4 linked regions of the Homo sapiens genome follow. The protein of the gene in region 4 purifies or fractionates together with the protein of the main gene of each other region. This does not show direct contact. Each region holds a gene or a part of one and is shown on either strand. Other genes may lie near its edges. The genes, in order: PCDH7, FREM2, CELSR1 and LAG3.

Region 1 (7,513 bases), on a different chromosome or scaffold from region 4:
TAAGTTACTGTGATCAAGGTTGTATCTCTTGAGCATAAAAACTTCCATCTTAAAGGCCGAGATTCTTTCTCCTTTACTTAAATTTCCTCAGAAAGCCTTGGTCATATTTTATTTTCAGTATTGGTTTGTTGAATCAAAATGAATAAACACAGCTTTGACACTATATAATTGCCCCATGAAACAAGAGACACCTATTGTTCTACTTTGCTTTATTAGCAAAGCAAAAAATACTTTACTTATTAAAAACCTGCAAGAGAAGAGGTAACAATGGAAAGTATTTTACCTTAGAAGAGGAATATTGAGATAAAATGGTTTCTCAATAGGTCGTCTAACCTCTGAGGTTGAGAGTACTAACTTGCTGGGCAGGGTGGCTCATGTCTATGATCCTAGCACTTTGGAGGGCCAAGATGGAAGGATCCCCTGATTCCAGGAGTTTGAGAACAGCCTTGAACAGGTGCATGACTGTAATCCCAGTTACTTAGTAGGATAAGGTGAGAGAATCGCTTGAGCCCAGGAGGTCGAGGCTGTAGTGAGCCAAGAATGTGCCACTGCACTCTGGCCAGGGCTACAGAGCAAGACCTTACATTAAAAAATAAAAATAAAAAAAAGACTACTAAACTTAAATATACTTAAACAGTCAAGATCCACAGTTCCTTTACCAAATAGAAGATGCTTAAGAGTGTTATATTTTAGCAGCACAAGGTTTTTTTGTTTTTTGGTTTTTTTTATTGATCATTCTTGGGTGTTTCTCGCAGAGGGGGATTTGGCAGGGTCATAGGACAATAGTGGAGGGAAGGTCAGCAGATAAACAAGTGAACAAAGGTCTCTGGTTTTCCTAGGCAGAGGACCCTGCGGCCTTCCACAGTGTTTGTGTCCCTGGGTACTTGAGATTAGAGAGTGGTGATGACTCTTAACGAGCATGCTGCCTTCAAGCATCTGTTTAACAAAGCACATCTTGCACCGCCCTTAATCCATTTAACCCTGAGTGGGCACAGCACATGTTTCAGAGAGCACAGGGTTGGGGGTAAGGTCATAGATCAACAGGATCCCAAGGCAGAAGAATTTTTCTTAGTACAGAACAAAATGAAAAGTCTCCCATGTCTACTTCTTTCTACACAGACACAGCAACCATCCGATTTCTCAATCTTTTCCCCACCTTTCCCCCTTTTCTATTCCACAAAACCGCCATTGTCATCATGGCCCGTTCTCAATGAGCTGTTGGGTACACCTCCCAGACGGGGTGGTGGCCGGGCAGACGGGCTCCTCACAGCACAAGGTTTTTTTATACATAAATCTGGCAATAACATCAGAGGAAGAATAGAATTATATGTAATCTATAAGCAAAAAGAATTCACAGGAAAGACTGAGATAACACCTTAACTAAATAAGGAACTAAAACAATCAAATGTATTATCAACAAGTGCTGAAATTCACACAAGCAAAAGCTTTGGGAGTCTGGAGGTAACAAAACCACTAACTGACCTCCAAAGTCACTTTGAGATTTGATGAGCGCTCATTCCCTCCTCAAATGTCATAAGGGTTCAGCAAAGTGATCTAGTTTAAAAGGACCAAATTAGAATAAAAGGGTAATACGGCCACACATTTTATCAGAGTTAATTATTAATATTGAGATTAGAAAAGAAAGGACTGAGAATCTGGTAAGCATACTAATTGGACATTATTTTCAGCTAATTTTCCCTGTTAATGTGAATAATTTGCAGCACTTTAAAGGGAGGTGTACACCTGAAAAATAATGCATTCAACTAGAACACTTAAAAAAAGAGAAAAGAATGTAGAAAGACCATAATGACATCTCCCTACCTTGAATGACAAAGAACACAAAGAGTCGGTTGGTTTGATGCCAAGAGATAGAAGACTTCCTTCCCCTCATTTTAGGTCCTTGCTATATTTATAAGTCACTAGTCATGAGTACTACCCTATGGTACTCGAAACAAAAGAAAAAAAACTAACTGGAAAATATTTAAGGTGAGAATATAATTTATACTGGTAATTTAAAAATGCTAAATTTGTGAGGCTGAGCATTTTATGAAGTCCTCATGACTAAGCCATTGTATTATATCAAATTTACCTAAAGTTGGCTGGGTGTGGTGGCTCACGCCTGTAATCCCAGCACTTTGGGAGGCTGAGGCAGGCAGATCACGAAGTCAGGAGTTGGAGACCATCCTAGCTAACATGGTGAAACCCTGTCTCTACTAAAAATACAAAAAATTAGCCGAGTGTGGTGGCGGGCGCCTATAGTCCCAGCTACTCTGGAGGCTGAGGCAGCAGAATGGTTTGAACGCAGGAGGCGGAACTTGCGGTGAGCCGAGATTGTGCCACTGCACTCCAGCCTGGGTGGCAGAGTGAGACTCCATCTCAAAAAAAAAAAACGACCTAAAGTTAATAATAATCCCAACTATTTATCATTGTTATTTAAATAATAATGGTAAAACATTTTATCAATTAATATAGTGAAAATACAACTTATTACTTATTTATAAATTATTGCATATTATTGTCTCATTTAGTTCCTTCTGCAATCCTATGATTTGCAATTGAACAAACTGAAGCTAAGAGGGGTTAGAAAATAATACTCCTTGTAGGAGGTAAAGCCAGGATTCAAACTGAGGTCATCAGATTTCAAAGCTTGTTTTGTAAACCAGTAGATTCTACTTACAGCACTGCCAATTCTTCTCTAGGACAGTACCTTCTTTAGACTCTTTTAGATTGTACTGCTCATTTTACTAGACAGCTGAGAAGCCACTATAGCACACATTTTAATTAGTTGAGTTCTGGCTTAGAGACAGTCTCTATAATCCATCTCTCTATATATTACTATGAAGAAATTCAAAGTGAATAGCACCCTCCCAAAGTGGTGGCATACAGACTTTTGGGGGATACTTGGGAGGTATAGAGCCATGTCACAATTGACAGGAAAGGTGAAAACAATTGCAGCCTCAGTCAGACACTGGCAACTAGGGTGGCACAGAGAAATGCAAAACTGTGAAAATGAATCCTTAGCAAGTCATGTTAGTCTCTTTCTGCAGAAGACGAAAAAAGGTATGACAGGTATTTGGTATTTTAGGTATTGTGCTTATGCCATTAAAAAGTATATGAGGATCTTTGGAAAGATGGAAGAGGCAGCCTTGCTAGAGAAGTTTGCTCAATCTACGTGAAATCAGCACAAACCAATAACTAGACAACTTTGCCTGACAGATGCCTGCTTGAAAATTGGGAGACAGGAGAAAAGGAGAGAGAAAGAGGAGGTCCTTTATCTCATACAAAGATATGCCTTTGGTCTCTATGCTCATTACACTTGGCCATTTAAAATTAGTGGCTTATTCTCAATGATATTTCAAATACACTGTCTAAAAGCAATATGAAAAGTCCATGTTTTACTGCAGCATGTTTAAATAATCAAGGACAAGGTATAATGCATGTAGAATGAAGAGATGAAGGAAATGGAATGAATCAAACAGTTGAGCTTAGCTTATATAAGTGTGACAAAGTAAGGAAGTTTGGAAAGGGAAAGTTCAAAAATATTCATGTATAAAGTCAAAAGTATTATTTAAAGATCTGAGAAAATCAAGAGGCATAAAATGAATTAGGGATTTAGAGTGGCCAAATTTCGAACCTCATTTAACTTGTTATAAACCTGGTTTATGGATCATCTGCTGTTTTTTTTTTAATTTATTTTTATGGTGTGATATTTAAGAAAGTCTACCTACAGAAAAATATATATTATTTCCTACCTTTTTTTTTTCATTTGTACTCTGACCAAAGTTCACATTGTTAAGTAAGAAAACACATGTGCTTATTCTATTGTGAAATGTCTTAATCATAATTCATGTATTTCAAGGGCATTGCACCCAGGGCTTGATCAGATCTACAGATGGTTCTTGCATAGTGGGATCTGAAGGAGGCTCCACAGCTGTCTCCCACACTGGCCTACTATGGTGCCAACATTTCCACCCACCTGGCCAGAAATCACACCATTTGATTCAGTCCACTCCTTTGATTTATGTAATAAATGCATTTTCTACTATTAAAATGCACTTGCTGTGTGGGTTCAGAGAAAGGCCCTAGAATCACTACTGGCCTGCCCACATTAACATACATTGTCAAATTCACTCACTATCTTACTATGAGACAAATGTCTCCATTCTATAGCATAAAAGATACAAGAAAAATTGAATGTAAGAGAATCACAGATTATTGGACCTGGAACCGAGTAAGATTTCAGAGTTGATTTATCAATTTCCTTAGACAGTAGCCTACCCAATGCTGATGGCAAAATTGAGATGAGAAGCCAAGCAAGGTGTTTTCTATATCTGAGCTTATTAAACACTAATTATCATAAAGACTTACATAGCAAAGGCAAACTGGCTTTGCAAAGATAATTTAGAGGGGGCTTTGGAAAGATCAAGTAGGTCATGGCATGAAGGTAGGGACCAGGATAAATACAATAGACCTAAAGAAACCATTGTATACCACTCCAAGAGAAAGTCTGAAGACTACTGCGTAATTAAAATAAGAGCAAACTCTTGCACAGTCAATGCTTGCCTTGAATGAGATGGTGCTTTTAAGCCTAATGTTTGGTTTTTAACTTGAATTACCAATCCATTGCAATATGCATCAATTATTCTAACATTTTCATTGTCAAATGTTTGTATTACCTATTTCCCCCATAAACTCTATATGAATTATTACTTTATTGCTAAATGTATTTTAATGAAACAAATAACCAATTTCCTCAATCTTTGATTAGATTGATATTAAAAGATTAGCATGAAATTATCATAATGATGATAATTAAAGGCAAAGAAATATATATTAGTAATCTTTGTCACAAATAAATGTATAACTAATAAGGTTTTCTTAAAATATTTTTTAAATGGGGTAATTTCTAGTGTTACTTTCCAGGGACCTGTGGCATTCTACAGATTTGGAACTTTAAAATGGTGGATCTCATTCTACATTATTAGATTCCGGTGGTAAGAAATTATATTTATTCTTATGGTATATTCTTTTTCCTTAGCTAATAAGAGAATAAAACCTCATTCTACATTTGGCGGTAATGTGTTTTAGAATATAGCGTAAAGCTTGTTAAACAGGGAATTAATACACAGGCCCTTTGAATGAAATTGTATTCATCATACTACAGTACAGAAGGAAGATAACGCTTTTGTAAAATGTAAGTACATTTCACTTAAATTTTCTTGTTTCTGTTCCTTCTCTGCATTTGTGAAAATGTATTTTTATCATTAGCTATCCTAACTTATTCCTGGTTTGTTAGCATGACATTGGAATTTTACTTGTTATTGCACTAGAAATTATCTTCTAAACTTTACAATGAAAGTTAATCCCAAACACTTGCTGATAACTGCATTGTTTCACATAGGTTAAAATTCAAGAAAAATGTTTGAGGTAATAATAATTAGGAACTAGCACAGCATCCAAAATGGTATTTTAATGGAAAATCCAAATGAAAATCCAATACAAATCCTGATTAAAACCTAGCCAAGCAAAAAACTACAGATTACCTGGATTCCAATTAAATGTGACAAATGAATACTTGACAGGTTTCAATTCCAATTCTATTTATGTCAGAATGATCCATTAATACTGAAGATGAAATTACCAGAATTTAAGCAACACAATTGCACTTTATGGCTAGATGAGTAGTCTGAAAACACGGACCCAACAAATTTGTTACTCAAAGGTCAACTGCTACATTTAGATCAGCCACAGTGCATCGCATCTCATTTTGTCATTACCTATAGATCAAGGCTAACATGAATCACAGCCAGTAGATGACAAATGGTCATATAAACTCTGACTTTCAAGTGTTGGTCACATACAAAATCAGGAAAGATCCGTTACATTATCATGACCCTTGCTTTTGACAGGCCTTAAAAACTTGGTTCTAAAAAAGAATTAAAAGTCGTTTTTTGGAACTCTTTCTCAGTATACTTTATATTTTATTAACAAGCTCACCTGTTAAGTTTTCCATGACATGTGTGTTTCCTAAAAGGTAACCGATATGTGTTTGTCATATATAATTATCTTTTAATTATTCATCATTTCTTTCTTATTTTAAAGGTGATGAATCCCCATAAACTCATAAAACAGAAACTAACATTAAAAAATGATTATAATGCCAGTGGTGCAAAGTCCTTTTTTAATAAAGCTGACATCCAAAAAATAAAGATTTAATTGTACATTCTGTGCTTTACAGTAAGAATAAGCACTTTTAAAAACACAAACAAAATTATATGTTCTCATGAACAGGTAATCTCAGATGTAGTAATACCCCTAAATTAAATTAATCCTGCCTTCCTAGGTATGCTCTATTTATCATCTATCTATATTAAAAATACTGTAATTACATACATATGTACATATAAGTAATTATATGTACTATATACATATTATATATTACATATATCACACATACGTAATTACACGTTACACATATGTAACGTAATACACTATAGTACATGTGACTACATACATGCAATTACATGTGGCTACATACATGTAATTACATAATTATCTTTTAATTATTCATCACTTATTTCTTATTTTAAAGGTGATGAATCCCCATAAACTCATAAAACAGAAACTAACATTGAAAAATGATTATAATGCCAGGGGTACAAAGTCCTTTTTTAATAAAGCTGACATCCAAATTACATATGTAATTACATAGTATGTATGTAATTACAGTATTTTTAGTTTAATTTCTTTTTCCAAATAATTTTAAACATATCTGCCTTAAATATATATTCATCAGCATTGCAATTCATACCAAAATTATATGCCCATTAAAAAAATTACTAAAAAAAATGTAACTCTTAGAAACCACACCAGACTCCCATCCACATAAGCACACACCACCATACACACAGATAAGCATGCTTTTATAGCCATAAGGCAAAATGCCATTTTAACTCTGCAAAATTAATCAAGAGGGACGTCAATCATCAGACCCTGATATCATATTTTCTTAACCAAGAACAATGTGGATAAATAATTATTTAGCATAATATAATTTAGCAATACTTTCATTTGGGGTCCTTTATAATATATTATATTCTAATATTGGATTTTAATATTCATAGGTAAACTTACAGAAGAAAATCAGTCTTTCTCCTGCATTAATATGCTCTACTTGCATATATATCAGCACTAAAGAAACGGATATATAACAAAAAGTTAGAGCGTCTTATGTCACTCGGGGGTTGAGATGGCAAAAGACATAAATCCACTGCAAGTTTTACTAGGGATAAAATGTGTGTGATTCCTTTCCTTTCTCTCTGTTTAACCATCTCTCTCTTCATATTTGAAAGAATAATGAAGTTAGGATGAATTTTACCATTCCATTATTTGACACAAACCTATTCCTCAGGCATTTACTTATGACTCAAAATCCAGAAAATAAATCACCAAATTATCTCTGGGAATATAAACAAATGTGGAAAGTTTTATAAGTGCTATTTGCAATCTAAAT
Region 2 (7,513 bases), on a different chromosome or scaffold from region 4:
TGCCACTTTGTGGAGAAGATAGAAAACATTCTTAAGGGTAAAAACAGACTATAAACTAGATGAGATCCACAGAGAAGTTCAATAGCATGAAGTGATTTTTTTTTTTTTTTTTTGAGATGGAGTTTCACTCTTGTTGCCCAGGCTGGAGTGCAATGGCGCGATCTCGGCTCACCACAACCTCCGCCTCCCAGTTCAAGCGATTCTCCTGCCTCAGCCTCCTGAGTAGCTGGGATTACAGGCATGCGCCACCACGCCCGGCTAATTTTATTTTATTTTATTTTTTTTGACAGAGTCTCGCTCTGTTGCCTAGGCTGGAGTGCAGTGGCGTGATCTCGGCTCACTGCAACCTCTGCCTCCCGGGTTCAAGTGATTCTCCTGCCTCAGCCTCCTGAGTAGCTGGGATTACGGAGCCCACCACCACACCCAGCTAATTTTTGTATTTTTTTTTAGTAGAGACGGGGTTTCTCCATGTTGGTCAGGCTGCTCTTGGACTCCCAACCTCAGGTGATCTGCCCGCCTCGGCCTCCCAAAGTGCTGGGATTACAGGCATGAAGTCACTGCTCCTGGCGTATGAAACGATTTTAACAAGGAATGAGAACTACAACATAATCCTATTTCTATATCCAATTTTGTTTATACCAATAGATGCTGTGATGTAAGCAACAATCTGAGAGAAAAGCAACCAGAAAGGAAATAGAAATAATTTAGTAATGGATTGAAGGCAGCTTTGTAAGGAAGACATGAAGGAAGTAGAGATACCTGATCTATAAAGAAAAAGAGGTAGATTTGTTAATATGAGCCTTTATTTTTCTTCTAGGGATTGAATCTTTATTTTTCCATGTTTCTTTCAGGTGGCAAAAACAGGTTAGGAAAGAGGAATCTACAGGATGAACACTTATACGTGTTTAAGTAACTTGCTCAAAGACATACAGCTAGAAACTATCAGAGCCAAATTTTGGTCAGCATTTGCTTGATTCCAATATCCAGATTCCACCATCTTATACTGCTTCTCTATTGCTATTTCTATTGGCATTTTTAGCAATCCCTGTAAGTTACTAAATGTTGCTGCTTTTTGACAAGGTGGCTATGGTCATGTCTCACCACCTCTGAGTCCAATTCAACATCAACACCAGCAGAACTTGTCAAAGTCCACAGCTTTACTGTGGGATTATCTCATACTAGTTATCTAGTTTTTTCTTGCTACTGGTTGTTACATATTTCATTCAACACCTTATGAATATAGCACAAAAAAGGGCAGCCTAACTTTAGCTCAATCTGGAAGGGCATTATATAGTCTATATATCATTCAACACTTCAATGCATAAACCTACTTATGTAACTCCTTATTTAGTCCAGGTAAGATTATAGCATTGCTTTTAGTTCAAATACTCATAACAATTTTAAATCATGCCCTACATATTTTAGGTTCTCTATTGTAACCCACAAGAAGATCTTGCTTCCTTATCATTTTAACAACTTTGTTGCTGATGATGGGGTGGGGGTGAGGATTGTGTGTGTGTATGTGTATTTTATGTGTGAATGTGTAGTATGAAGAAGAATCAGTAACTGTAGAGTGCAAATAACAATAAGTTTTAATAAAAACACTTCTGACTATGTTAATGATAGATAAATGAATCAAAAAGCGAAGAAGAGGAGAAAAACAGAAAGAAAAAGAAGGAGAGTAAAACAGGAGGCTAAAAGCAGAGAAAGTTTTGTAAAATGTAGGGGAAGAAGAAAGTCAGAAAAGAGGGAGAAAAATTAGGCTGACTCCCAGGATTGTAAAACCTCACTTTAGGTGGCTCATGATACAACATCACAGGCATCTACACATAAACACAAAAACAACATAGTGTATACTTTGAAGAGAAGTCAGTATTTGGATTTTTATAATATCAGAGTAGATTTTGAGCTTAAGGCAATAATTATACAGCATCCTTTTCACATAGATATAATGTTTCTAGCCCATTGTCAAAAACTACGTATATTCTGGCCCATTGTTAAGAAATAGACACGGATTTTCACACCATCCATGCCAGTTGTCTGGTCCCTTGCTGTCAATAATTACCTACAACACCAAGATGGAAAACTGGAGTTGGGACTTAGTACAAATCTATGTGACAAAACAAACCAATTGGTTTATCCAGTGACCAAACTCAGATGTTATAAATCTGTACCTGTCCATCTGTTCCAATGGTGCCACCACAGTCAGCAAGGAGTTCTGACATGTCATAGTAGCTAACGAACTCCCATAAACAGGCCTCTAGGTTCAGGTTCCGGTAGAAGCGCAAGGTAGTGGAACCTCTGATGGACAAGCTGTACTGGTAAGGATATGTCTCTCCAATTATTTCTGGATTTTTGGTAGCATCAGTCAAGAAACCATAATGAGTCTTCACTTCAGTATAATCCAGGAGGTTGGAGCACTTGTGGTTTCCAACTCTTGTGCCATCAGGGCTGAGGGTGAGCTCAAAGTTGGAAAGCTCTCTAGTGGAGATCACGGGGAGCATGCCTATGATAAATCGAAATCATTGTTAACAGTCTTTCAAGTAGCCAAGAATTTTGAACACTTTAAAACTTCTTTATCTCTTAAGAAAACAAGTGTCATAAAATGCCATACAGCAGTGGTGTATGGCATACAGATCAAAGTGGTGTCCAGGCCCGGTGACGTGGCTCATGCCTGTAATCCCGGCACTTTGGGAGGTCTAGGTGGGTGGATCATCTGAGGTCAGGAGTTCAAGACCAGCCTGGCCAACATGATGAAACCCTGTCTCTACCAAAATTACAATAGCTGGGCATGGTGGCGGGTGCCTGTAATCCCAGCTACTTGGGAGGCTGAGGCAGGAGAATTGCTTGAACCCGGAAGGCAGAGGTTGCAGTGAGCTGAGATCGCACCACTGCACTCCAGCCTGGACATCAAAGGTGAAACTCCACCTCAAAAAAAACCCCTACAAAAAACAAAAAAATAAAAAAGTGGTATACTAAGAACCCTGGGGTTCCCCAGGAAAATTTCAAGAGATCCATGACTTAATCGCTATTTTCACAATGATAGTAAGTTATTATTTGACTTTGCCACCCATATTCTCTCACAAATGCAGTTTTTCAGAGACTACAAGATATGATAAATTGCAACAGATTGAATGCAGAAGCAGAGAATCCAGTTATCTTCTATTAAGTCAGACATTAATGATATCTTCAAGAATATAAAAGTGCCACTCATCATTTTTTTGTTTTATAACATAGTTTTTTAAAGGATGTATTTCATGTTAATATGTAATGTATTTCTTTTTGTAATTTTTAAATAAGTGAATAAATAACAATTCCTCAGTTTTAATTTAAAATCCAATAAATATTTATAGATATCACCCACATAAACAAAATCTCTTTGAGATCTTCAATAATTTCTAAGATGTCCTGGATCATAAATGTTGAAAACTGGCCATGCGTGGTGGCTCACATCTGTAATCCCAGCACTTTGGGAGGCCAAGGCAGGTGGATCACTTGAGGTCAGGAGTTTGAGACCAGCCTGACCAACATGGCGAAACCCCGTCTCTACTAAAAATGCAAAAATTAGCCAGGCATGGTGATGCACGCCTGTAATTCCAGCTACTTAGGAGGCTGAGGCATGAGAATCGCTTGAACCCGGGAGGTGGAGGTTGCAGTGAGCTGAGATCGCGCTACTGCACTCCAGCCTGGGTAACAGAGTGAGACTCTGCCTCAAAAAAAAAATTTTTATAAAGTTGAAAACTACCACCATTAAAAAGTACAGGCTAAGGACTGAAAATTTGTTCCATAAAGGGTCAAATAGTAAATATTTTAGCATTGTGGTCCCTGAGGTCTCTGTTGACTGTTCAATGCTGCCATCAGAGTGAAAGCCACTACTATGTGAAAGAAGAAACAGAACTGTGTGCAACAAAACTTTATCATGGGCAATGGATTTGAATTCCATACCATCTTTATGTCTCAAAAGTAGACTTCTTTTTTTTTCCCCAAACATTTAAAAATATAAAACCTATTCCTAGCTTGCAGACCATATGAAAACAGGCAGCAGACTGTATTTGGCCACAGGACATAGTGTGTTGAGCCCTGGCATAAGCAATACAGCAAAAGACTATGAACCAGTTCTTCTCTTTGAGCCTTTCACACCTCTTCCTCTCAGATTCACTCAGAGCAAAACTCCGGCCCCACAGAAGAAGTGGTCAGCCTCAACTACACTTCTGGCAGAACTGTGGCTATTGAACATTGAACAGTGCATTCAGAAAACGCAAAGCCAAGCCCTAGGAGTGGCAGAAGAGACCACTCTTTCTTTTAGGAAATAACTCTTATAGGTCTGTGTTTCCCTGATGGGTCCCTTCTCAGCCCTTTGCAGCTCAAGTCACACCTCCACATGGACCTACAGACTGGGTGGTTCAGGGACCAACATTATGCTATAAAGGAAGGAATGCAGATTCCTGACCACCTGCCCTTCCAATCCCCAGAAAAATCTCAGGTTGTAATAGGAAGACATAGCAGATGTTCTTGTTCTGGGGGAGGTAGATTCTACGTTGCAGCTCCTAATCGTATTTCCTCTCCCTTAGCTACATAAAATATAACTAACATATCAAGTAATTTTATTAACAATTTGCTATAAGTATAAAGTGATTTGAGTGGAAAATAACTTGAAAATGCCTTCCGCACATGGTAAAATATTCATAAAGTATGATAAAGTTATTGATGCACACATTCTGGTCATGGCTACCTAGCCAGAGAAAATAGACACAATATTTAATACCTGTTAGTTTCATTTTTTATTTTATTTAAATATCTTGGAAATGTCTTACAGTTACATGATAAATATTGAGAGAGACATAAAACTCCAGCTATAAAACTGCAACACATGTTGAAGGTAGGTACTAAGATATCAAATACTTTACTGTAACTTCAAGTTTACGATTGAAGATGCATTTGTACTCTTTCATAAAAGCTAGACTAGGTACCAAAGTTTTGTTTTATCGTGTCTGGATATGTATTACATCTACCTAATTTTAACGAATGCTTACACTGCCATAGTTATAAAAACAGGGTAGAACAAAGCTAAAACAGTTGAAAGAAGTGGAAGGACTTGAAGCTCAAGTTGCAAATTGAACGTTTATTTAAGCTTGGTTATTTAGAAGATGAAGGAAAATACAACAGGTAATGAGGAGTCCAAAACAATTCCATGGATTTGCTTACCCAAGTCACCTACCATCTATGTGTGGCATTGTGACAGTGAGCTTGATAAGGTTTGTGTAGTCTGCATCCTCAGGGCCTGTGTAGCGCAATTTAGCTGAGAACGGCTCTGCTCCAACAACCCCAGGTACACGGGGCTGACAAAGACCTTGAAAAAAAAAAAGACCATATTTATGCGAAAAGAAGGTAATCAATAATACCTAAAGAATGTTTTAGAAAATAGGAGCTATTATTTTTCTGTGTACTTTCAACTTCTCTGTGGAGTAGGGCATGGCTAAGAGTGTACATCACGTGATAAGGAATTAGAAGTCCACAGGGTGAGAAGTAATCACAGCAGACAGTTAGTGGCCACTTGACAATTTATGGATTGTTCAAACTTTGAGAAAAAATTTGTTACCATTCAATGTAACTTAATGTGTGCTGGTTATTCTAGGTCATGGTCATATTCACAAAATCATTTAAATATAAAGTATGAACAGATACAGTAAAAATGACTGAAAGTCAGTAGGATAAAAGTAAGTGTAGTTAAACCAAGTAAATGTTATTTTTACTCTAGAATAATATACTTATCATTAGTTATGTTTACATTACTTATAAGTGAATAAAACTAAAACTGTGCTCATTTTAGGAACAAAAACTAAAGTCTCCTTAAAAATCAGAGAGCAAAATATGTACAGTAGAGTTTTCTCTATAGATGTAATTTTTTACAGTATGTGTATTATACATTATAATCCATTTTATATTCATCTCTTTCTGTCTCATATCTCCCAGTGACCTTCAAGAATTTGGACATGAAACTCTTTCTCCAGTATTTCCTTTAGGAAAATAGTGGGGTTTCTATTTGAACATCATGAAAGGAACCAAGACGCTGAATTATAATTTCAGGAGAACTTGGAAAGATACAATTACTTATCTATTTGTATAAAACAGAGAAAATAGACAAATATGTATTAGAATAGCAAGGAAATCAGAGTCAGGCCCCAGCATAGAGGCTGTCTGATTTATTAAAAGAGAGAATCATTTTAAGGCATTATTTAAATATTTGATCCTGAATATATAGTAGTCACAGGTGGGACATATGACCTCTATGCAGTAAATTTACTTTTGAATGCGGTGTGCAAATAGATGATTTAGAAATAGAATCAAATATATACAACCGTTTTTAAGAAAAATCTCATTAAAAATTATTCTGCAGAGTGAAGGATTTATTTATACAGTGGATTTCCTGTCTTTCCAATGTTGTCCCCAGCCACATCCTATTCTCCATCCCCAATGTGTCTTTGCTCCAGCCTTAAATACAGTCTCTCTTGTAATACCAAGGTGTTAATTTGCACGTACCCCTCTATCTGGACTGCCCTTCCCCTCCCGTCCCCAGCAAAATCCTACTCACCCAACAACCAGCTGGTTTCCTTGCATGGCATGAGCTCTGTTCAGATCTGAGCCTTGCATACCATTTTGCCTTGTCTCCTGGTTTTTCCTCCTCTCCCTCTCAGAAGCTTCCCCATTTCTCTGCTTGCCATTCCCACAATATCCCGCATTCTTTCTTGCTTTTATGAGTTGTTGCTCATGCTTGTTTTCCTCTACTCTTTTCAGATTCAGCTTGAGCCTCCCCTCTTTGATAAGCCTTTCCTGACCCACTCAGGGTAAAACTAATCACTTCTACCTGTGCATTCCTGTGCCCTGTCTAGACTAAAATGTGTCTGCATCTTCAACTGGACCAAGAATTCCTCAAAAGCAGGGATCCTGTCTTCTTTATTTTATTGCCAGCACAAAGCATTGTGTCTGGCATATAATAGATACTTAAAGGTAGAATGAATAAATATTTTGTTTTCTAATACATAATTTTGTAAAAATAGATTTTAATTTTTCACTACTTACAAAATATATGGAATATGTGGGACATTGGAAGTATTAATAACCAGAAAGTAGACATTTGTAATATTGCACAGTATTCCAGTGATCTTCAGGGGAAAATGGCAATGACTGACCTTCTTCTCTGCTGATGGTTACAATAGGGCTCATGAGCTCCAGGCCTTCATCCCCATTGGTGTTCACAGCACGAGCTGCGCACTGTACCCGGGAGCCAGGCTGAAAGTATATGGAGTCCAGTGTGACCATCTTGGATGACGTAAAAAAGGTGTCGAAGTCCACTTCTCTCATAGGGCTGGTCACACCGTCAGGGCCCGCAGGTGCACTAATCAGCCACCGGTACCGCGTCAAAGTGTCATTGATGTTCTCACTTGCACAGATAGAGCCTGTTTTATCGTAGTCTGAATATTTGGGGTTGCAAGCCTACGGAAAACAAATGACT
Region 3 (6,986 bases), on a different chromosome or scaffold from region 4:
GCATCTGCTAACAGTGCTCACATTTTCATCAGGGTCAAGTTTAAAACAGTGTGGACATCTTTGCATTTTACTTGATTTTCATCCTATTTTATGGTTTCTCCTATTTGGAAGCAGCTGTGCTGATCACTTATTTGGGCACCTGATTTGAAGAACAAAGGAAACGCTAAAATCAAACATGTCTGACAGTTCCGGGACCCGTTCCACAGCCCCTCGGGCCACGCTGTGCCAGCTGCCTGCAGTGGGCCCGACCTTGGTGTGAATTTCCAAAAACAGTTTGGTAACCGTTGAAGAGTGTGGCTGTGGCTTTGTCCCTCTGCACAATTGGCCATTTGAAGCAAAATGAAGTAATTGGTCAGACTCCAGAGGGGAGAACCCTGCCTGGAGATCCTCGCAGTCTCAGAGAGTTAGAGAATTGGCAGGAGGTATGTAACGGCCTGGAAGGCCCCACACCTCTGTCCAAATCAGGAACCTGCAACGCTTTAAGGTCCCAGGTCCCACGGGGAGCAGGAGCAAAGGACAAAGCCATCCCCACCTGCAGCTCCCGGGCCACCTGGGAGGCGGTGAGGGGAGGGGGTGGTGGTCACAGAATGACCAGGTGAAAAATGACAGCCGTGTGGCAACCGTGCCCCACAGTGACCTCAGCAGGGCTCCTCACACCTGCCTAGTGCTGCACTGCCCTGTCTTGAATTCACACAGCCGGGGCAGATGGCAGCAGAGGACAAACGCACACACAGCGAACACTGGGGACCCAGGGGGCCGGCGGGGAGGGCCCACACCATCCTCACTTCCTGGCCGAAGGCAGCTGTAGGGCTTCTAGCCGCTTGGTTTTAGCCCCACTGCTGACGTATTTCCCACCTTTGATCTGCTGGGGCACCAGTTTCGTCAACACATGCCAGATTCAAGTACAACTGTGCAATCTTGACAGAGAAGACAGCAAGAGATCATTGCATGGATCTCTCGGGATAACAAAGTCAGCACGAATGCAATATATATACAGGTTGCACCTCCTCAGAGTCCCATACAAATATATAAAAGTATCTCCACCTTTCCCACATAGCGAAGTGATTTTAAGACAAGGGGTGCCTTTGCAAAGGACTGCCCGGGCTGCCAGCCACGGGTCCGCACTGCCATGAGATGCCCGCCTGGGCGGGGCTGGACCGCGGTCTTTGGTCTGTGCCCGGCGTTCCTGAACTCTGGCCAGCCTCTGGGCCCAGTCTGGGGTCCCCTCTCAGTTCTGGCTTTGACTGCAGTCTTAGGACTCAGCGGTGCTGGCCCAGTGGTCCACGCCTCCCTCATGCCTGTGGCCTTTGGCACTTGTCACCAGGTCTGACAGGCCCTGAGCTCCTGGGAGAACCAAGACCTTTGTGTCTGGATGATCAGTCGGGGGGCTGCCACCATGGGGACCGCCACACTCTGGGCCCACTCCACTTCAAGGGCAGTGGCCCCTTGGGCTCCAAGGTCTGAGGGTGATGCCGCAGCCTGTGTGGGGTGACGGGCTTGCCTCACGGTTTCCTGATGGTTCAAATTGAAGTTTCATTACTGATGGTTCAAATTGAAGTTTCATTACTGCCTCTGCGCGTGGGAAGAAGCCAGCAAGCAGGTGAAGGGTCAGTGAGGGTAGCGGCTTGGTGGGGCCCAAGGTTGTCACACGGGGGGGCAGGATCACCCCATCAGGGTAGAGGGGGCGTCTGGGGGCTCCAGGGAGGGCAAGCTCATGTTGGATGAGGCTGCCCTTGGGAGGCAGGAGAGGGGACCAGGACCAGCCTGTGGGCCTCTGTGTTGCTGGTCTTTCAGAAGAGCGCAAGGAATCCACGTTAGAAACCGGCCATCTCTACAGTGACTTTTGGAAGGGGCATTCTGAAGACCTGGCTTCTCCCTTGTGAGTTTGGAGGGAGGGAGGGGCGACAGGGAGAGGTCTGGGGCCAGGACCCCAGCTCCACCCCGCCCCCTTCACCCCTGGCATTCCGGGACCCTCAGTATCCTCAACTGCAAGGTGGGTGGCAGTGGTCCCAGGCGGAGACAATGCTGATCAAACGCAGAGCCCAGCACCTTAGGTCCTAGCATTTTGGGGCTGGCCAGGGCTTCAGAGTCCCAGAGGCCTGAGACGTGTCCCCAGGATAGGGGGTCTGCCCATCTCCGGGGTATCCTCCTGACCTCAGCTGCAGCGCCTCCCCCCTCCCCCATCCCCGCCTGGGCTTCCTCTGCACTCAGGGCTCCAGGTGAGGTGGGTGTCAGGTCCCTGACCACTGCCCCCTCTCTCTCCTGACTCAGGACAAGGGGGAAGTGGGTGATCCCCGCCCTGGAGGCCCAGGCTACTCACTCAGAGTCGGAGCCATCGGCCTGGGCGCTCCCAGTGCGCACATTCATGGCCACCCCGTTGAGGTGGTCACGCCCCGGCTCCCTCCCAGGGCTCTTGACTGTGATGGCGCAGTCGGGGCCGCCAGAGCCCAGGGAAGACGTGCGCGAGGATGTGGGGCTCTGCTCACAGTCGGCCAGCTTCTCCCGGAGCCGGCCCTTCAGCGTCTGCTCCGTCAGCGTCAGCGGCGGCGGGTAGGTGACTTTATTTTTCAAGATGCCTGGGAGGAGGAGACACGGCAAGGTCAAGTCCGGGTGATGCTGCCGGGGGCAGCTGCTGGGCCGTGTGCAGCTGAGCCAGCCTCAGCCCCTGTCCTTCCTCCTGGTTCCCCGGGTCCCAGGGCTAGGCCAGGAGGCCACGTCTGTTCTGCCCAGGCCCTGACTTGCCCCACCAGCCCCAGCCCCACTCCCACCTCCAGACCAGGGACTGGCCCTTCTGGGTCCTCCAGCCTTTCACTGCAGCCCCGGCCTCCCCAGGCACCTTTCCTCTGCTCTGGGGGCTGGCTGCTAGCAAGCCTGGCTGCGCCCCCGCTCTCCTGGTCCGGGGGGTACTCTCCACGGTGACTGCCCTGCTCCTCGCGGTGCAGCTCCACGCTGACCTTGGTCTCCACCTTCAGGCGGGGCTTGCCGCTGGGGTCCTCACTGTCACTCTCAGCCAGGCTCTGGTCGGGCCAGCCGGCCGGAACGTGGTTGGCCACAGCGTCCCCTGAGGCACGAGAGCGGTGCTCAGCAGGCAGCGGCACTGCCACTCGAGCTGCTCCCTTGAGAGCCATGGGTCTGGTGGCTCTGACCCACCTCTCCCCAACCTGCAGGCCTGGTAGGGCTGAACCCTAAAGGTGGGGAAACTGAGGCCCAGGAGGGCGAGTCCTGGCAGCAGGGCCCTTGTTGGGAGCCCCCGCCGCATCTGTACCAGTAACTATACAGGCTAATCCCCCACTGGCAGCCTCACCTGGACCTTGCGGTGACAGTCCACAGAGACCCCCCTGAGAGTTCCTGCCTCCGCTCAGGGGGTTGGCCTGGAGGAGCCCTCCAGAGGCTGTGGGGGAGCCCAACCAGAGTCCCCCCACCCCAGGCTGTCCTTTCATGTGGCTGCAGTGCTGCTGGGCATATCCTGGGAGGAAGGGACCCAGCCATAGCCAAGGCCTGCCCCGAGCCCGCTGTCCACAGCCCAGCCTGGCCCAATGTGCCCCACACACTCACCTTTGGGGGTGCTGTGGACGGCGCCCCTGGCCGGGTCCCATTTTTCCTCAGCTCCCACCCCATCGTCCTCGCTGTCTGACGAGTGTGAGGAGGCGTAAGAGCTGCTCTGCTCATCCAGGGACAGCTCGCTATCTGAGTCGGAATCGTGGCCTGTGGATGCGCGGGGGACAGGGAGGCTCAGGCCCTGGGAGGTGAGGGAGTCCCACCGAGGGCCAAGCAGAGCCACTGGGCCCCTGGCATGCTGACGCTGAGCATGGCGAGGCTGCTAGTGCTTCTTCAGGGGCAGTCTGTCCAGTGACCGAAGGGACGTGGGAAAAACAACCCACGGGGTCCTCCCCCTCCAGGGAAGCCATACCAGGGGGATCCTTGCAGCTCCTGGGCATGAGGGACGCGTCTGGCTCTCCGTGGCTGCCCCTCACCAGCCCAGAGGACACGCCGAGCTTCTGGATCCCTTCATCCCTAGAGAGGCCAGGGAGGGTGGGCTCAGTATCATCCGTCAGGGAACAGGAGGTGCTGGAAAGTTCTCTGGAAGATTCTCTGCCCCTACCCCTTCTGTGTTCCCAACAACAGCACAGACAAAACAGCCTCCCGAGTATGTGGGGGAAAGGTGGTGGGGGGAAAGGTTGGGTGGGGGGAAGGTGGTGGGTGGAAAGGTTGGGTGGGGGAAGGTGGTGGGGGGAAAGGTTGGGTGGGGGAAGGTGGTGGGGGGAAAGGCTGGGTGGGGGAAAGGTGGTGGGGGGAAAGGCTGGGGGGGAAGGTGGTGGGGGGAAAGGTTGGGGGGAAGGTGCTGGGGGAAAGGTTGGGGGGAAAGGTTGTCAGGGGAAAGGTGGAGGGGGAAGGTGGAGGGGGGAAGGCTGCGGGGGGAAGGTGCAGTGCGGGGAAGGTGCGGGGGGGAAGGTTGCACGGGAAAAGGTTGGTTGGGGGAAGTTGGTGGGGGAAAGGTTGTTGGGGGAAGGTGCAGGGGAAGGGAAGGTGCGAGGCGGGGAGGGAAGGTGCGGGGCAGGGAGGGAAGTTGCGGGTGGGAAGAAGGTGCGGGTGGAAAGTTGGGGGTGGAAGGTGATGTTGGTTGAATGGCAGGACACAGGTTGGGGTGGCAGGGGCAAAACCTGAGGGAGTTCGAGAGCCACCTCCCCGAACCCGGAGCTGCGGCCTGACCTGACGATGCTGTCCAGCGAGGCGGTGGACTCGCCCAAGTCTGTGCGCAGCATGTCAGGCCCGTCACCGAAGGTGGTGTTGCAGTTGAGGGAGCGCTGAAGGGAGGGGAGGGGCTGGTCACTGCCAAGTGGTGGCCACCACATGACCACCACGGGGAATGACTCTGTCCCCACGGCAAGCCCCCCACACCCACACCCTGGCTGGGCCCCTGCCTGGCACACAGGAGGAGCTGGCCCCAAGCAGTCAACCCTCACTGCAAACGAGAGCCTCCTGGCAGCTGAGGGAAGCACATCCTGGCCCGCGCTGTGGTCAGGGGCTGCCGCCCTCCCTACGGCCACTGCTTCTGGTCAGGATCCTCGGTGGTCCTGACCCTCTCTTTCTAAGGCCTGGAAGAGCAGGGTTAGGATGCGACCCAGGCCCCATCTGGCCGATTCTGTCACTTTCTGGTTCTGACGCGGCAGCCACACCGTGCACCGCGGGCGGCTCTGCCATCCCCACCGTGAGGGGCATACGGGCCGCAGGACTGGGGCTGAGGCTCGATCACCCTCCCCCGCCCCTCGAGATGCCGCCCAGCCCCCAGTCCCGCGGTGTCCCCGGCGCCTCCTACCGTCAGCAGGGTGGCCCTGGTGGTGGCGGAGTCCTCCAGGTGCAGCTTCCTCCCGCCGAGCACGCCCTTCAGGTGCTTCCGGACCTCCTGGTTGAGCACGCAGTGGAAAAGGAGGACGAAGGGGCCCTGGAGGGAGGAAGGTGGGGTCAGCACCTGCTGCTGCCTCCCTAGGCACCTGCCCTTAGGCGCCCCAGCACAGATGCGCATACAGCCTTGAGTGCACACAACATGTCCGGCCACACGGCCCAGGACACGGCCAGGCCTCCCCTCCTCAGGGACTGCTGCTATCTGGAGGCCAGGTGGGGGAGCTCAGAAACTGAGATGCCTGGGCCAGACCCCCGGTGTGCTGGAGGCAGTGAGGGCCCCGGCTCAGGCCAGTCTTCTGGGCACTCCTTCCACAGTCCTTGGGGCCCCTCTGGGGTCCCCACTGTGTCGTAAGTCCACTTGCTGTGTGGCCCTTGGTATGACTAGAAATGGCCACTTCTGTTCCCTGGAGACACAAGTGGACTTGTGCTGGCCTGGCACTAGGGTCATCGTCCCCAGACACAGTGGGGAGGAGGCACCAGCCCCCGTGCCGGCTGCACAAGGGACTGAGTCCTCACAGCCACAGGAGGCCCCCACGCGGGACCCAGGCAGGGCTGGTTTGGGACCGCAGAGGCCTCCACTGCTTCGCATCACAGCGATGGTGTCACGGCGGCCAGGCAGGGGTCCCGCGGGCAACTCGGCCGTCACCTACCTGTAAGCCGCTGAAGATGGCGAAGAGGTAGTGAAAGCTCAGTGCATCGCGGTTCACAGCCAGCAGCCCCAGCAGCCAGGTGGCGCTGATGAGCAGCAGCAGGAGGAATGCGGTCCTCAGCAGGGAGCTGCGGGAGGGCAGGATCAGGCCTGTGCCCATCGCCACCACCTGCTCCCTTCCTCCCTCCCTCTCTGCACGTCCACCTGTCCACCTGCCTGCCCGTCCGCCCATCTATCTGTCCGTCCACCTGTCCACCCAGCCATCATCCACCTTGCTCCCTTCCTCCCCTCGTAGCCAGGTACGGACTCATCCGGGAACCAGACAGAGCTCGTGTTAGTGGGGGTGGTGGTGGAATACATTAGGAAGCAAATGAGAAAACAGGAGCTGTGAGGACTACACCAGGCCAAGGGGCCTGAGCCATGCCCATGGCTGCACTAGCTCCCGTGAGATACCCTGTGGAGAGGCAAGAGGAAGAGCCCAGGACCTGCCCTTGAGCTGTGACCCTGCAATCAGCTTCCTGAGCTCTGCCTCAGTCTCCCCATGTGTACAAGGGGAAGACAAAGGCGCATCCCCTCCCAGGGTTCAGAGGGGATGGAGTGAATCCGGGTGACAGAGCCCGCAAGGTCCACAGGTCGTGGATGGCACTGAAGACGAGGAACTGACAAGGCCCCAGACCCCCCGTGCACCCCCATATCCGGCCTTCCAGGCCACTCACTGCCTCTCCCTCTCTGCCCTACCCCCCTTCAGACTCGGCTCTCTCCTCCCGGGCCGGGAGCCTCACACTCCTCCTGACACCCAGCCCCTGCGCAAGCATTATCCCTTCGCCCATCCCTGGCTCAGTCCCATCTCAGCTACCAGGTCACCAGGGGCTGGCCTTGTTGTCTGACAGATGCCCCCGTCAACCCCTCCTGACCCTGTCGTGGCTCCTGGACG
Region 4 (7,969 bases):
CTGTATCTCCTGAGACATGCATTGTTCAGTCCCTCTCCTGAAGGGTGCATAGGACATGTGACAGTCACCGGGCACATACTCATATGCTGCACATAGAACGTGCATAATACAAAGGCGGTGCCTGCATTCACAGCAGTCTGTGCCCTGCCTTGTCCACTGCACTGCTCAACTCCTCAGGCCTGCCGCAGCCGGCCCAGTGACCTCCGTTGGGGTGTGACAAGCAGTGACCACTGGGTGGCAGTGTGTTCTCATGCCTGGGACCAGAAAAGCCTCCAAGGGCTGAGGAACGTGGGGGGTGGGGCAGAGGTAGGAGCCCCAGCCGGCTGCCCAGAGAGGTTTCCAGACCGGATCTCCTGGAAGACTTGACAAGGCAGTCCTCTGCGCGCCGCGCGTGTGTGTGTGTGTGTGTGTGTGTGCGTGTGCGCGCGCGCGTGTGTGTGCATGTGTGTGTGCACGTGCGCGCGAGCATATGTGCGCATCTGCTGCAGCCGGAGGGCCAAGGACAAGTGCTGAAGTGCAGCTGAGTGTGGGGTGGGGTGGACCCAAAGGACAAAAATATCAAGGAAACCAGGGCAGCCAGCGCACTGTGGGTGGAAGGTGGGTGGAAGGACGGAGGAGAGAGCTGCGGAGGCAAGGGGCAAGGGCTTTTTCGGGGGAGCTTCAGAGAAATGATTACCCAGGAGAGAGAAAGAGAGAGTGAGCGCAAGAGAGAGAGAGACCAAGAAAGAAACACGAAGCAGCCAGAAACAGAAAAGGGGAAGGTGAGGGAGGCTGGCTGGGGAAAGTAGGTTAGGAGGCTAGGGTGGGAGAAGGGAGCCCTCAGAGGCTGGGGAGAGACGGGAACCTTCACTTGGACAAGAAAGAGCCAGACTCAGGCTTGCTGCTGACAGGGAGTTTATTTGGACTGGGCTGCTGAGATCTGCTGGCTGCCTCAGCTCCAGGTCAGAGCTGCTCCGGCTCGGGCTCGGGCTCGGGCTCCGGTTCCGGCTCCGGCTCCGGCTCCGGTTCTTGCTCCAGCTCCTCTATCTTGCTCTGAGCCTGCGGAGGGTGAATCCCTTGCTCTAAGGCAGAAAATCGTCTTGGTCGCCACTGTGAGAAGAGATGGAGAGAGAGACGGAGGGCGGAAGGAGGAGAAGGATGAAGGGAAGCGGATGAGGAGGGACACTGAGTCCCTCTATTTTTTCTCAGCGCCCCTGCCCTCCCCATCTGGTCCTGGCTTTCTCCCAACCCCCCTTCCAGCCTACCCAGGCACAAGCCATCCCTGGAGTGAGAGGCTTATGAAGAAGGGGGGCTCTGAGGGCAAGTTCAGGGTCCCATTTGGTCACCTTCCTGAGGAAGGGGTGCCATCAGCACTCTGAGGATGGAAGAGCGGGAGCTGCTGGGGGGCGGGGTTGCCATGTCCCTGGCTCACCTGTCTTCTCCAAAGGTGAAAGCCAAAGGCTCCAGTCACCAAAAGGAGCAGAGAAAGGACACCAAGGATGAGAAACAGCAGGAGGTGGCCTGCTGGGAGGGCACCTGGGGCTCTCCCAGAGCGTTGGGCACCTATGGAGAAAGTACAGGATGAGGCATAGGGTCAGGACTAGAAAGGACACTTTGTCATTCTCTCAGACTTTACAGATGCAATGAGATCCAGAGAGTTTAAGGGACTTGTCCCAGGGTCATTCAGCTGATCAGTGGCGGAAACGGGTCAACCCTAGGCAAAAGCCAGAGATCAGGTCCCTGACTGGAAAGAAAAGCGCTGGGATGGGGGTGGCAGGGGCTGTTCTGGAAGGAGGATAAAGATTATTGCTGTGGCGTTTGGGTCCTGGCATTCTGGGGCCTCGGACCTGGGCTAGACAGCTCTGTGAAGTACACTGCTGCTCCAAGAAGCCTCTCCCCCTGGTACAGCTGGCATTGCCAAGGCTGGGAAAGGAGCTGGGCCTCCTGTGCCTCCAGCCAAGGTCCTGAGAAACTCCTCTGGGATGGGGTGTCCAGAGAGCTCCACACAAAGCGTTCTTGTCCAGATACTGGAGTCACCTCACAAAGCAGCTTCCCCAGGGATCCAGGTGACCCAAAGGATTTGGGAGTCACTGAAAAGAGTAGAAGGAAGAGATCTTTTGGGATTCTGCCCCCCTTACGTGATATCACAGGTTGAACCCCAAGTCTCAATCACCCTGCACTCACTTGGGTTCTGGCCAGGGGAGGTTGGGGAAGGACATCATGGGTCATGGCCACGTTCATCTTTTTCTTTCTATTTATTTTTTTATTAAATTGTATACAGATGCGTTTTCACCATGTTGCCCAGGCTAGTCTGGAATTCCTGGACTCAAGTGCTCCTCTCGTCTCAGCCTTTCAAAGTGCTGGGATTACAGGTGTGAGCCATCATGCCCTGCCGGCCACATTTATCTTATTCAGACAATGCTCTAGTCAGCTCCCTCCCCTGCTCAAAACATTTCCAGGCTCCCTACTGCCTTCACACTCAAACTGGCCCTGGCAGACCACAGAATAAATACTATTACAGATTCTTTTACATTACTTTCTACTCAAATGCTCAGAACCCTCAAAATCAGTCAGATGAGCTGACCCCCATCTACTTCACAATTTTGGAACTTCCATGATGCGGCTCACATCAGTGTCCCCTGCCTTGTGGTGCCCCCTGAATGAACATCATCCCCCTTTCTGAAGGTATAGAGAACAGGGAACTGACCCATTCATCTAGAGACAGAGCATTCTCCAAGTTGTAAAGTGAGAGATGGGTGGGTGGGAGGAGACAAAGGGTGAAGGGCATCTGAGTAGTGTCCTGGAGAGTGATTTGGTGATGCAGACACCTGAGTTTAGACCCAGAGTCTGGCACTTCCCAGCTGTTTTGAGAAAGTCTTCGGGGTAACAGTATCTCTCTCATTGAGCCGTCTACATAAAACAGTTGACCTTCAAGAGGGCATTGGACAGAAAGAACTGGTGGACTTTGATGACTGATGGGATGTAGAGAGGAGGAGGCCAGGTTTCGAGGTGGATGGATACCAGTGGATTACTGACAGGCTGAGTCAGCAAGGGGATTGGTGGGAGAAAAAGCTGGGGTTCAGGGTAAGGCGGCTGAGAGGTGGTATAACATCTAGTTAGAGGTATCCAGAAAGCAAGTGAAAACTCAGGATTGGCCTTCAGGAGATGTATTATCCATTAGCATGTTCACGTATTCATTCAATCTCTATACATTATTAAGCACCTGCCGTGGGGTGCTACTACTGAGTGGCCGCAGGTGCGTGCTGCAGACATGGCTAATCTGTCATGGCCGATAGTTATCAACCAGTCAACACATACTCTCTGAGTATTCTTTTTTCTGTGTTTGTTTTATACTGTCTTGGAAAACCCTTGCTCAGTAAATATTTGCTGACCAAGGGACGGATTTATTCACTCCTCCCAAATCCAGGCCACTTCCTGCAACTCTAACCCAAGCCCTGGCTGCAAAGTAGACAAGGATTCTAGAAATATATTCTACCTCTTTCGAACCATTCAGAATTTTTGTCACCTTTCCTTCTAACTTCCCAGACCCTCCCGCCAATTGAGAGCAGGGGAGTCCCATAGAGAACGGTGGAACTTTTATCTTGTGACTCAAGAGGAGATTTTCAGTTTCGTTTCTTTATTATGGGGGTGAGAAAAGTGGGGGCCGAGATGGGCAGGCTCTGGAACTTGTGCCCAGTGGCCTGGCATCACAGGGTGGGTTTGCCTAGTCTTTGCCCTGCCAGCCCTTCCTCCCTGTCCTTTCTACCCTGGGAGGGCAGCTACTCCTTTCCCACCTGAGGCTGACCTGTGATGATTGCCAATGTGACAGTGGCATTGAGCTGCTGTTCCTGCAGATGGATATGGCAGGTGTAGGTCCCAGCCTGGGCCTGGCTCACATCCTCTAGTCGAAGGGTAAAGTCGCCATTGTCTCCAGTCACCAGGAGGTCAGGGCCTCCCCCAGGAGGAGTCCACTTGGCAGTGAGGAAAGACCGGGTCCCCACACCAGCAGGCAGGCGGCAGGGCAGCCCCACCCTGGAACCTGCTCCAGCGTACACTGTCAAGGGAGTTGGGGGCTCCAGACCTGAAGAGAAAAGAAAACCCAAAGTTAAAGCTGGGTGCTGCAGTGGGGAGGGAGTGCTGGGGCTGCAAGGAAGGGAGGCAGAAGAATTCAGGAGATGGTCTGGCTCATAAGAGTGCTAAGGAGCAGAATAAGGTGATGAGCTGAGGAGGCTCAGAAACCCAGCAAGTGGGCTTAGCCGGAAGGAGAGGGAAGGCCGGCAATGACGCTGGAAGGCCACGGGAGAAGCAAGAAGGGGTGATGGCAGCTGTGAGGCTGCCAGCAATATAAAGGGGTCGAACAGTGAGACCCACAGCAATGACGTAGGCCACTCGCTGCCGAGAACCTGGTTTGGGGACCCATAGTTAGGGGAGGTGACAAGGGGGGCAGGAAGGAGTTGTGGTCAAATGTGAAGCAGAGTGGGGGAGTTACCCAGAACAGTGAGGTTATACATGATGGAGACGTTGAAGCCATCTCTGTAGGTGAGGATGCAGCCCCAGGGCCCAGAGTCCATGGGGCTGACTTGGGGCAGGAAGAGGAAGCTTTCCGCTAAGTGGTGATGGGGGGACTCCCGGACAGGGACTCGGCCCTGGCCCCGGTTCCGGAACCAATGCACAGAGGCTGGGCGGTCAGGGCGGCTGAAGGAGCAGTTCAAAATGACCCAGTCGGAGGCTCTGAGAGATCCTGGGGGGCTGGCAGTCACTGTGCAAGGATAAAGAAGACTTCATCAGCCCACTGGAAACAATTTCCCAACACAGCAGGGCTGCCAAGCCGGAAGCTCCTGGAAACAGGCACCTGGCTTTAGACTTGTCTTCTCCTCTCCCACATCACCCTCTCCCCATCTCAGCTTCCAGCACCTGGAGGTGCATAAAGTGGATCCCCAAGACTCCCCAGGACCACTTTCCCCGTCCCTGGCCTGGAGTTTACTTGGCATCAGCCACCCTTGCCGTTTTCCTGGCCTGGAACCCCGCGAAGCCCACCCCCTGAGCTACAGATATCTGAAATGAATCACTTTAGCCCCATGCTCTCCCCCCCTCCCCCTCCCTCTGGGCACTCCCGCGTGGGTGGGAGAAGGGGAGCTCGGGGGTGACACAATCTCTCCACAGGGCCCCCCATACACGTGCTTCGGGGGCACCTTCCACTCCAGCAGGCCGCCCACCCCCTTCCTCTACTCTTCTGGGAGCTCTCCGACAGGGCCTAGGGCGCAGCCTCTGCCCCAGCCCTTCCTGCGTCCCGGGAGGCAGGGGATGGGGACCCACCTCCCAGCCCTTCTCCCATCGTCCCGCCCCACATACTCGAGGCCTGGCCCAGGCGCAGACGGAGGCGGCAGGAGAGGGCGCGGTCCCTGAGGTGCACCGCGGCGCGGTACTCGCCGGCGTCCGCGCGCCGGGCTGGGCGCAGCCATAGCGAGAAGTCCCCGCGCTGCCGGCCGCGCTCATCCAGCTGGACGCGGGGCTGCAGGGGCAGCCTCCCGCTGCGCAGGCCTCCGGGACCCACGCTCAGCACCGTGTAGCGGCGGGGCCTGGGCCCCCAGGAGGAGGGCGCCGCCGGGTGAGGGCCGGGGGCCAGGGGATGGCCGGGGGCGGCAGCGGGCGGGCCACTGGGCGGGAAAGAGAATGGAGTTGAGAAGCTCCAGGGGTAGGAAGCCCGGGAGGATGCAGGCAGCCACCCGTTGAGGATGAGAAAGCCCGCCCCAAGAGTTCTCTTGACCACCAACCGTCCCCTCACGCCCGACCCCTCTGTTGGACTGGCCGCATCCACTTCTGGAGAGAAGGGATGCTGGCGTGAGGGTCGCTGATTGCAGAGCAAGGGCAGGAACGGTGCAAGCGAGGGCAGGGAGACTGGGTCACTGGCTTCAGAGGGAGTGACACCTCAGGGCAGGGGACAGAGGACCGGCACGGGTGTGGGGTTGAGTGCTGGATTCGGAGGTCCTGTTGCCCAAGTTTGGGGTGCATACCTGTCTGGCTGATGCTGCCAAGTGACCCCTGCTCTTCGCAGAAGGCTGAGATCCTGGAGGGGGATTGTGGGGCTGCAGGGGAGCTGGGCAGGAGCCCCCTCCTGGGCCCACACCACCGGGACCTCAGCCCCTGGCTGGAGAGGCTTCACTAGGTGAGCAAAAGAGAGGCCAAGGGGAGGGGGCGTGAGCCGAGAGGCAGGGGTAGAGAAGGAGCCTGGGTGTTTCCCGAGGGAGAAACAGGGTGCAGGAAGAACTTGGGTTTCTGTTTCTTCTCTGCCCAGAGAGGCTTTCGGGGTGGAAGGACTGCCCAAAAAAGGGATTAGAAGAATCCACAGAGCTAAGGACCTCAGGACCTTTGTGGCCACAGAGATCCCTGCTGGTCCCCTCCTGTGGGGCTGGAGGTCAACCCTCCCGCCATCCCCGTTTTACCTGGAGCCACCCAAAGCGGCTGCAGAAACAGCAAGCCCAGGAACTGAGCCTCCCACATCTCTCCTATGGTCTGGGCAGCGCTGAGCCCTCCAAAAGGAGGTCAGAAAAGGAAAGGGGGCAGTGGTGGGGGGTGGGGGGTAAAGGAGAAGTTCTGCAGAGAGGGAGGTGGAGGAAGGGGTTCTAGAAGAAGGGAGACCAGGAGAGGGCCTTGGAGAGAGGGTGGGGAGGGATGACCAGAGGCCGGAATCCAGAGGAAAGCTGGAAAGCTGGGCAGATCAGGCAGCCTGAGGAGGTGGGGGCGGGGGTGTCCCAGGGAACAGAGCAGGGCCGTGGCGGAGAGCAGACAGAGCAAAGTGGCCGTCGTGGCTGGGATGCCGTTCTGCTGGTCTCTGGGCCTTCACCCCTGTGCCCGGCCTTCCCTCCACCTTCCCCACTTCCCCTCCTCCCGGCCCGCCCCCCGCACCCCAGGGCTTACGGTTTCGCTTCGCAGTGGAAAGTCTGAGGGGGTTGATTCCCAGCAGCAGCACCCTCCACCTCTCCACCTCTGTGGTGGCGCTCCCCTTGTTTACTTCCTCAGTCCTGGGTCTCCCCACCTCCCCCTCCTCGCCCCTGCCCCACCCTCCAGACTGCTCCCTCTCCCAGGGACCTTCTGCCTCCACGAACCATTTCTGCCTGGAACTGCCCCCTTGCCCATCTCTAAGCTGCCTCCTCAGTCCCAATATTCACACCTCCTTCTTGGCAAGCTCTTTCCTTGTTGCTCAATCTCCTTCCTCGTTCCCTTAACCTCCCAGAACTTCGTGACCCCTTTAGACCTGCCTTTCCACCCATCAGTACAATGTCCCTGGGAACATGGTGGACAGGAAGCCTTACTGCACCCCAAAAAATGGTAGGTCTGAGGCTAGGCATGCCAGCTTTGTGGGGCATGGAGAATAACTACATTGTATTGAGGCTTCATTACGTGCTAAGCACTGTATTGGACACTTTACTTATAGTAATTCATGAAATCTAATGCTTTTCCCCATTGTACAGATGAGGAAACTGAGCTTCAAAGAAATTGTACAATTTGCCAAGGTTAGGGAGCGTGAAGATAAAAGCTGTGAGTGTACCTGTGTGCGTGACAGTGTGTAGTCCTGACCTTGGATGAGTTACGGGCGTCTCCTGGGAGAAATGATGCTGTTGATGAGTCAACACCCCTCCCCACTCCAACTCAGGTCCCCATGCCCTCAGAAGCATCCTCCAGTCCAGAGGTTCCGAACTAAGAGGAGAAGGCAAGGGCCATGCGGAGATGGAGAAATGCAGAAATCTTAGAAATCTCCTAACAGAGATCAAACTCAGGGGAAACAGAGGCAGTGGGACTAGGGAAGGCCCAAGACTGACAAGAGTCATACAACTCCCGCTCCCCAGCCCAGCCCAGGGAGAGTTGGAGGGCAGGTGACGAAACATACAGCCGACCTGGGGATGACACGAGACCCAGGATTTCCCTGCTTGACTGGAAGGAGCTCGCTTCCATGCCAGGCAGAGGGCATCTCTGATGCCAGGCAGCTCAC

What was found.
Region 1: the proteins of LAG3 (region 4) and PCDH7 purify together in Homo sapiens (affinity purification with mass spectrometry; one large-scale study listed by BioGRID and IntAct). This does not show direct contact.
Region 2: the proteins of LAG3 (region 4) and FREM2 purify together in Homo sapiens (affinity purification with mass spectrometry; one large-scale study listed by BioGRID and IntAct). This does not show direct contact.
Region 3: the proteins of LAG3 (region 4) and CELSR1 purify together in Homo sapiens (affinity purification with mass spectrometry; one large-scale study listed by BioGRID and IntAct). This does not show direct contact.

Annotation. Positions count from the first base shown.
Region 1 is NC_000004.12:30,921,068-30,928,580, reverse strand, and holds part of PCDH7 (protocadherin-7 isoform d precursor), read right to left. Parts: intron 1-7,513.
Region 2 is NC_000013.11:38,859,268-38,866,780, reverse strand, and holds part of FREM2 (FRAS1-related extracellular matrix protein 2 precursor), read right to left. Parts: intron 7,495-7,513; coding exon 7,191-7,494; intron 5,351-7,190; coding exon 5,219-5,350; intron 2,507-5,218; coding exon 2,175-2,506; intron 1-2,174. UniProt on the Homo sapiens protein: Extracellular matrix protein required for maintenance of the integrity of the skin epithelium and for maintenance of renal epithelia. Required for epidermal adhesion. Involved in the development of eyelids and the anterior segment of the eyeballs.
Region 3 is NC_000022.11:46,361,676-46,368,661, forward strand, and holds part of CELSR1 (cadherin EGF LAG seven-pass G-type receptor 1 isoform 1 precursor), read right to left. Parts: intron 6,181-6,986; coding exon 6,054-6,180; intron 5,444-6,053; coding exon 5,318-5,443; intron 4,806-5,317; coding exon 4,711-4,805; intron 4,015-4,710; coding exon 3,911-4,014; intron 3,706-3,910; coding exon 3,556-3,705; intron 3,062-3,555; coding exon 2,837-3,061; intron 2,577-2,836; coding exon 2,321-2,576; coding exon of another isoform or gene 2,317-2,320; exon of another isoform or gene 1,573-2,316; coding exon 1,548-1,572; 3' UTR 1,513-1,547; coding exon of another isoform or gene 1,503-1,512; 3' UTR 1-1,502. UniProt on the Homo sapiens protein: Receptor that may have an important role in cell/cell signaling during nervous system formation.
Region 4 is NC_000012.12:6,771,364-6,779,332, reverse strand, and holds LAG3 (lymphocyte activation gene 3 protein isoform 1 precursor), read right to left. Parts: upstream 6,814-7,969; 5' UTR 6,481-6,813; coding exon 6,423-6,480; intron 6,142-6,422; coding exon 5,994-6,141; intron 5,637-5,993; coding exon 5,332-5,636; intron 4,739-5,331; coding exon 4,469-4,738; intron 4,061-4,468; coding exon 3,785-4,060; intron 2,070-3,784; coding exon 1,827-2,069; intron 1,543-1,826; coding exon 1,412-1,542; coding exon of another isoform or gene 1,326-1,411; intron 1,090-1,325; coding exon 943-1,089; 3' UTR 878-942; downstream 1-877. UniProt on the Homo sapiens protein: Lymphocyte activation gene 3 protein: Inhibitory receptor on antigen activated T-cells. Delivers inhibitory signals upon binding to ligands, such as FGL1. FGL1 constitutes a major ligand of LAG3 and is responsible for LAG3 T-cell inhibitory function.